2 separate regions of the Homo sapiens genome follow, and region 1 is linked to region 2. Evidence: fine-mapped expression QTL. A gene starts in region 2. The other region holds a variant in brackets. All regions are shown on one strand. Distances are from middle to middle. Region 1 overlaps DDR2 (discoidin domain receptor tyrosine kinase 2). Region 2 holds the start of DDR2 (discoidin domain receptor tyrosine kinase 2).

Region 1 (4,272 bases), 120 kb after region 2:
AGAAGCCGGGAAGGTCGAACTGGGTGGTACCCATCACAGCTCAACCAGGCCTGCCTGCCTCTGTAGACGCCACCTCTGTGGGCAGGGCGTAGCTGAACAAAAGGCAGCAGAAACTTCTGCAGACTTAAACGTCCCTGTCTGACAGCTTTGAAGAGAGTGGTGGTTCTCCCAGCATGGAGTTTGAGATCTGAGAATGGACAGCCTGCCTCATCAAGTGGGTCCCTGACCCCCGAGTAGCCTAACTGGGAGACACCTCCCAGTAGGGGCCTACAGACACCTCATACAGCTGGGTGCCCCTCTGAGATGAAGCTTCCAGAGGAAGGATCAGGCAGCAACATTTGCTGTTTTGCAATATTTGCTGTTTTGCAATATTTGCTGTTCTGCAGCCTGCACTGGTGATACCCAGGCAAACAGGGTCTGGAGTGGACCTCCAGCAAACTCCAACAGACCTGCAGATGAGGGTCCTGACTGTTAGAAGGAAAACTAACAAAGAGAAAGGAATAGCATCAACATCAACAAAAAGGACATCCACACCAAAGCCCCATCTGTAGGTCACCATCATCAAAGACTAAAGGTAGATAAAACCACAAAGATGGGGAGAAACCAGAGCAGAAAAGCTGAAAATTCTAAAAATCAGAGCACCTCTTCTCCTCCAAAGGAACACAGCTCCTCAAGAGCAATGGAACAAGGATGGACGGAGAATGACTTTGACAAGATGACAGAAGTAGGCTTAAAAATATCAGTAATAACAAACTTCTCCAAGGAAGTTTGGAGGATGTTCAAACCCATCGCAAAGAAGCTAAAAACCTTGAAAAAAGATTAGACGAATGGCTAACTAGAATAAACAGTGTAGAGAAGACCTTAAGTGACCTGGTGGAGCTGAAAACCATGGCACGAGAACTACGTGATGCATGCACAAGCTTCAGTAGCCAATTTGATCAAGTGGAAGTTCAAGTGAATGAAATGAAGCGAGAAGAGAAGTTTAGAGAAAAAAGAGTAAAAAAAAATGAACAAAGCCTCCAAGAAATATGAGACTGTGTGAAAAGATCAAATCTACATCTGACTGGTGTACCTGAAAGTGACGGGGAGAATGGAACCAAGTTGGAAAACACTCTTCAGGGTATTATCCAGGAGAACTTCCCCAACCTAGCAAGGCAGGCCAACATTCAAATTCAAGAAATACAGAGAACGCCACAAAGATACTCCTCGAGAAGAGCAACCCCAAGACACATAATTGTCAGATTCACCAAGGTTGAAATAAAGGAAAAAACGTTAAGGGTAGCCAGAGAGAAAGGTCAGGTTACCCACAAAGGGAAGCCCATCAGCCTAATAGCGGATCTCTCAGCAGAAACTTTACAAGCCAGAAGAGAGTAAAGGCCAATATTCAACGTTCTTAAAGAAAAGAATTTTTAACCCAGAATTTCATATCCAGCCAAACTAAGCTTCATAAGTGAAGGAGAAATAAAATCCTTTACAGACAAGCAAATGCTGAGAGATTTTGTCACCACCAGGCCTGCCCTACAAGAGCTCCTGAAGGAAGTGCTAAACATGGAAAGGAAAAACCAGTATCAGCCACTGCAAAAACATGCCAAATTGTAAACACCATCGATGCTAGGAAGAAACTGCATCAACTAATGAGCAAAATAACCAGCTAACATCATAATGACAGGATCAAATTCACATGTAACAATATTAACCTTAAATGTAAATGGGCTAAATGCTCCAATTAAAAGACACAGACTGGCAAGTTGGATAAAGAGTCAAGACCCATCAGTGTGCTGTATTCAGGAGACCCATCTCATGTGCAGAGACACACATAGGCTCAAAATAAAGGGATGGAGGAAGATCCACCAAGCAAATGGAAAACAAAAAAAGGCAGGGGTTGCAATCCTAGTCTCTGATAAAACAGACTTTAAACCAGCAAGGATCAAAAGAGACAAAGAAGGCCATTACATAATGGTAAAGGGATCAATTCAACAAGAAGAGCTAACTATCCTAAATATATATGCACCCAATACAGGAGCACCCAAATTCATAAAGCAAGTCCTTAAAGACCTAGAAACAAAGAGACTTAGA[CT/C]CCCACAGAATCATAATGGGAGATTTTAACACCCCACTGTCAACATTAGACAGATCAACAAGACAGAAAGTTAACAAGGATATCCAGGACTTGAACTCAGCTCTGCACCAAGTGGACCTAATAGACATCTACAGAACTCTCCACTACAAATCAGCAGCATATACATTCTTCTCAGCACCACATCATACTTATTCCAAAATTGACCACATAGTTGGAAGTAAAGCACTCCTCAGCAAATGTAAAAGAACAGAAACTATAACAAACTCTGTCTCAGACCACAGTGCAATCAAATTAGAACTCAGGATTAAGAAACTCACTCAAAACTGCTCAACTACATGGAAACTGAACAACCTGCTCCTGAATGACTACTGGGTACATAATGAAATGAAGGCAGAAATAAAGATGTTCTTTGAAACCAATGAGAACAAAGACACAACATACCAGAATCTCTGGGACACATTCAAAGCAGTGCATAGAGGGAAATTTATAGCACTAAATGCCCACAAGAGAAAGCAGAAAAGATCTAAAATTGACACTCTAACATCACAATTAAAAGAACTAGAGAAGCAAGAGCAAACACATTCAAAAGCTAGCAGAAGGCAAGAAATAACTAAGATCAGAGCAGAACTGAAGGAGATAGAGACACAAAAAACCCTTCAAAAAATCAATGAATCCAGGAGCTGGTTTTTTGAAAAGATCAACAAAATTGATAGACCGCTAGCAAGACTAACAAAGAAGAAAGGAGAGAAGAATCAAATAGATACAATAAAAAATGATAAAGGAGTTATCACCACTGATCCCACAGAATTACAAACTATCATCAGAGAATACTATAAACACCTCTATGCAAATAAACTAGAAAATCTAGAAGAAATGGATAAATTCCTGGACATATACACCCTCCCAAGACTAAACCAGGAAGAAGTCGAATCCCTGAATAGACCAATAACAGGCTCTGAAATTGCGGCAATAATTAATAGCCTACCAACCAAAAAAAGTCCAGGACCAGATGGATGCACAGCTGAATTCTACCAGAGGTACAAAGAATAGCTGGTACCATTCCTTCTGAAACTATTCCAGTCAATAGAAATACAGGGAATCCTCCCTAACTCATTTTATAAGGCCAGCATCATCCTGAAACCAAAGACTAGCAGAGACACAACAACAACAAAAAAGAGAATTTTAGACCAATATCCCTGATGAACATTCATGCAAAAATCCTAAATAAAATACTGGCAAACTGAATCCAGCAGACAACAAAAAGCTTATCCACCACAATCAAGTTGGCTTCATCCCTGGGATGCAAGGCTGCTTCAACATATGCAAATCAATAAACCTAATCCGTCATATAAACAGAACCAAAGACAAAAACCACATGATTATCTCAATAGATGCAGAAAAGGCCTTCAACAAAATTCAACAGCCCTTCATGCTAAAAGCTCTCAGTAAACTAGGTATTGATGGTAAGAGCTATTTATGACAAACGCACAGCCAATATCATACTGAATGGGCAAAAACTGGAAGCATTCCCTTTGAAAACTGGCACAAGACAGGGATGCCCTCTCTCACCACTCCTATTCAACATAGTTTGGATGTTCTGGCCAGGGCAATCAGGCAGGAGAAAGAAATAAAGGGTATTTAATTAGGAAAAGAGGAAGTCAAATTGTCCCTGTTTGCAGATGACATGATTGTATATTTAGAAAACCCCATCATCTCAGCCCCAAATCTCCTTAAGCTGATCAGCAACTTCAGCAAAGTCTCAGGATACAAAATCAATGTGCAAAAAATCACAAGCATTCCTATACACCAATAAGAGACAAACAGAGAGCCAAATCATGAGTGAACTCCCATTCACAATTGCTTCAAAGAGAATAAAATACCTAGGAATCCAACTTACAAGGGATGTGAAGGACCTCTTCAAGGAGAACTACAAACCACTGCTCAACAAAGTAAAAGAGGACACAAACAAATGGAAGAACATTCCATGCTCGTGGGTAGGAAGAATCAATATCGTGGAAATGGCCATACTGCCCAAGGTAATTTATAGATTCAATGCCATCCCCCATCAAGCTACCAATGACTTTCTTCACAGAATTGGAAAAAACTACTTTAAAGTTCATATGGAACCAAAAAAGAGCCCGCATTGCCAAGACAATCCTAAGCCAAAAGAACAAAGCTGGAGGCATCACACTACT
Region 2 (4,272 bases):
CCTTAAAATGAAAAAGGAAAACACATACCTATATGTACAGGCCCTGTCCTTTATCAGGCTCAGTCTGGTTTTATGAAGTTGTTACTGTTTTCCACATTTGACCTATAGTATCACCAAATCTGTGAAATCACAGATTGTATTTTTGGTACATTCTTTATAGTAATGCCAAAGAGGTGAACTACTACAGGCATGGACATTTGAGGAGGATTTCTAGTTGTCTCTGGCAAGCACCCAGTAAAGTGCCTGATAAGAGCCCAACACATATTTATTGAGTTGAGCTGCATGTCTGGCCTGAGTCACCCTCAGGCCTGACTTCAGATGCTGTAAGTTATTTGAAGAGTCTTCTTAATAAGTTGATCTCTGCAGTGTCTTTTCTCTTCATAAACTAACCCTAGTTCTAGTTTTTTCTCTAAGGTCTTGCTTGCTGCCTTTAATCATTTCCATGGCTGCCCTCTGAACCATTCCCATGTTCTCCGTGTCCTTTTCTGTAACAGCTGTGAGGCACAGATGTTAACGGCTGCTTTCTGACCCTCAGACTGGTGCTGAGCTTATGAGACTTTTAGGGACTTAACACTGACTCAACACTAGCTCTCAGTTTCATGGCCACCCTCATTGTGTGTGTGTGTGTGTGTGTGTGTGTGTGTGTGTGTGTGTGTGCGCTTTTCCATTCCCCTTATGAAACATCTCCTGCCCCTAACTTACTATGGGAACGTTCCTCCATGATCTCTTTCCATCCTCCCTTTCCTGTTTGCTCACTTCTTTTCTTGCTCATCTTGGAGACTGTGCAATCCCAGATTAACTACAAACAGAGAAGAGCTGGTGATAGCTCCAGAGCTCAGAGAAAGGAGGTCTCTTTACAAGAAGTCTGGCTCTCAAAGGTAAGCTCGGTCTTCTTGACCTGCCTTTTGCCATCTACCTCTCTCTTTGGATCTCCTGCCCCTGGGTCCCTGCTTGCCCTGCATTCTCCATACTCACGGAGAATCAGGACCTCCAGAACAGCCCAGCGTGGGCTTGGTCAGGAATGATCCAGGCTCTGAAGGGTTAAGGCTGGAGCCTGGATGGATGGAGAGGGTTATTAGTTATCGTTTGGAGAGTGGAGTGAAGGCTCCTCCCCTGTTGCCTACCCGCCCCTTTCACATGATCTCTGACTATAGCTGTGGAAGCGGGGAGAAGATAAAGGAGGGAAAAAAAAGTTCACAAAATAATTTAGAAAGTCCTTATAAATGCTTGTGTTTTCATTTAGCAGCATGAATCCAGGACAGCAACAGACCCTCAGAGGCAGCAGCCAACTGGGAATTGAGTGGAAAAAAATAGGAATCCTGGATTCTGGCAGTTTCCAGTTGTTTTCTTGGTGGGGGGAGCCGTGGTGGGAAGGGATTAAATCAAATCTTTCGGGGGAGAGCTCAGCTCTAGGCTTTCATGGTCAAAATACTAAAGGTCAGCTCCGCGTGTGTGCCCCAACTGTCCTGGAAGCTTCAATTGGAAAACTCCAAACTTTAAGTTTTGCTTATAGCTTCAGCTCAAGTAAGAAAAATGAGGTGTGGGGTAGGCGGCGGGGGGGTGGGGATCACAGGAAGGGGATCAAGTCTTAGATGGAGGGGAAGGAAGTGGAGATGGATATGGGTGGGAATAAGGCAGAAGGGAGCGGTGTCTTTAAGTCTGTCCTATGGTTATACATATTTTTTCTTCTATGAATGGGTTTTGCTGTAAATTATAGCTTTGCCCATAGTCCCTTGGGTCAAAAGAAATAGTCTCCAAACAGAAAACAGCTCTGATTGGTGACTTTCCTTCTTCCCTCCCCAACCCCCTTCCTAATTGAAACCAAATGTGCAATATATTGGATGCTGGGATCCCTGGCGCTTTCCCAGGAATCCTCAGAATGTGAGGTTTCTCTCAAAGGCATCTTGCATCAGCCTGTGGATGTATGCCTACCACCGGGCTCCTTCACCAGCAAAGTGGAAAAAGAAGCGTTTCACAACAAATTCTTCTTTTTGGGTTGGGGAAACGCAGTGGATTATAGCTCTGTTTTCTTCTTTCCAAAACTGTGCACCCCTGGATGAAAGTAAGTTATGTGGGTCTTTTTTCTTTATTATTTTTTCTTTTTTGAAAATGAAAGCTCCGCATATACTTCTTTTGGTGTTTCAGGAAAAGTTTTAAAAAGGAAACAGAAGGGCGTTTTAAGTCAGACAAGGAAGGGAACGTAATGAGGCACCACAGACTCGAGAAATCAGATCCCATGTTTTTGGGGGTCTGGATTTATGCTATGAAGGGAAGAATAAAGAGCAGTAATAACCAAAGAAGCCTGAAGCAAAATAAATGAATCTATAGCAGCTGCAAGATACAATAAACAGTGTTAGCAGAGTTGAAATTGTTGGCAGGCAAGACAGGCCGATTGCAGAGTTAGTTTCAGGATGAAGAAGGCAGAGCAGGAGAGCTAAGTTTTTAGACATTTAGTAGTGGTGTTAGAAGGTCCTGAGTTTTGGAGATAGTGTAGACCAAGCACTTTTTGTTTTTCAGGGGAGTTGCTGATTTACTTGTGAGAAGGGTAACTTTGGATGAGGGGTGGCTTCCCCCTGAGATTTGGGGTGGCTAGGGGGAGGCTGGGTGCATGGAAGATTTTTCAGTTGTGACAGTGAAATACAGCTTCCCAGACTCATCTCCTCGCTGGCTCTGGGTGCCTTTCCCTTTGTTATGGAATGACTGGGGCTGTTTTCATTTGGGACCTCTGAGTCCTGGCCTAGGTTCAAGAGTCCCATCCAAAGGGAAAGAGAACTGTTCCCAGTGGCTGAAACTCTCAGACCAGCCATTTGAGGCAAGAGTTCGTACTGTTCAAGCCAGTAGGGGGTTCAGCACCATTTTGCCGATCATTGGCTTCCTACAACACAGAGTTAAGAGTCCTGAAAAGGGCCTTAGGCCTCTCATCTAACCCCTTCGCTCCACAGATGTAAAAAATGATAGGAAGGGGACCGACCTGTTCAAGTCCCACAGCACATCTGTAGTGGAGCTGAAAATGAAATTGAGATTCTCTCTACTGCTAGTCCAGTGTTCTTTCCACTCCATACCTCTGCTTTCATTTCCTTTTTAAGGCTTATTCTGGCTGAGACAATAGAGGCAGTATGATGAGCAAGTCACCACAAGGACGTTAATTATCAGTAATAGAGAGGACGCCAATGGCGGCTCATCAGCTAATGATGTCTATGGTTATATTTGTGTGTGTGTGTAAAATAAAAAGAAGCTAAATTCTGAGTATTTTCTATGCAGCAGGCTCAAAATAATACATAATTCATGCTCAGAGCTCTTCATACATAATTTGATTGACTCTCACAGCTATGTAAGGCATTATTTCTATCGTACATGTAAGGACATTAACGCTTAGAGAAGCGAAATGAGTTGCTCAAGGAAAGGTAGCTAATACATTTGAAACTCATGTATATCTGACTCTAAAACCTATGCTTGGAATCACTATTCAATGATACTCCCCTCATCTCCCTTGCATTTGGTTACTTTTGGGGTCAAATTCCATATTTCACTGGCTGATCAGGAGGTGAAGGTGTCAGGCTATGGGAGCAGTATGGATTCTCTCTCAGAGGCCACTTCTGCACTTGGCTGAACATTTGTCTGGATATCAGATGTGGGGTTGATTTCTGGGTCTTTGGTATATACTTACCTTTGTTATGCAAAGAGCCTGGGACTTAGAGTCAGAAGATTCAGGATAAGTTCTGGCTCTACCTTTTACTACTTAGCAAAGTTGCTTTGCCTTTCTGCACCTTGACTTCTGTATTTATTATATGGGAACAATTGCAGTACCTTTCAGTGTGATTGCTGCAAGAGGTATTGGACATGCATGCATGCTGAAGGCTATCAAGGGCTTACCCATATCAGCTCTTTCGATTAGGATCGGTAAACACAGAACGTCATATGAGGCAGCCCCTGTGGTGCTGGGTCTGGCAGTTGGTGCTGATGCTGGCAGGAGGGCAGATGGATTTGGATGTGTGTGAAACTCTGAAATGGGTGGCCTCAGTCTTAGTGCCCATCTCCTTTGAATGGAAGCAGGCCTTCCTCCCTCCCGGGGGAATATTCCTGAGGGCTCTGTCTTAAATTCTGTCTCTTAAATTCTCCTCCACTGGCCTGGTTTGATATGATTCCTTGCCCAAAGCAGTGCAGGCTGAAGGACACTGTGCTTGGTGAAGCATCCCCTGTCTCTGAAAAGGAAGTGTTTAGTCAGGACCAGTCCCCTGATTGCTCCTCAGACAAGACTGACATTTGAGGAGC

Evidence for each region. PIP is the estimated chance that this variant, and not a neighbour inherited with it, causes the effect.
Region 1: its variant is the best candidate, but not a certain one, in a credible set for the expression of DDR2 in whole blood (TOPMed, PIP 0.51).

What each region holds. Positions count from the first base shown.
Region 1 is chr1:162,746,461-162,750,732 of GRCh38, forward strand. The region is part of intron 3 of DDR2 (discoidin domain receptor tyrosine kinase 2); the gene reads left to right. Among named protein-coding and RNA genes, the nearest start is that of HSD17B7, 42 kb to the right of the region's middle. The variant CT/C (reference allele first, on the strand shown) is at 2,077.
Region 2 is chr1:162,630,570-162,634,841 of GRCh38, forward strand. It overlaps DDR2 (discoidin domain receptor tyrosine kinase 2), which reads left to right and starts at 1,895. Exons shown (of 18, transcript NM_006182.4): 1 at 1,895-2,062. RefSeq lists enhancers at 173-352, 643-742.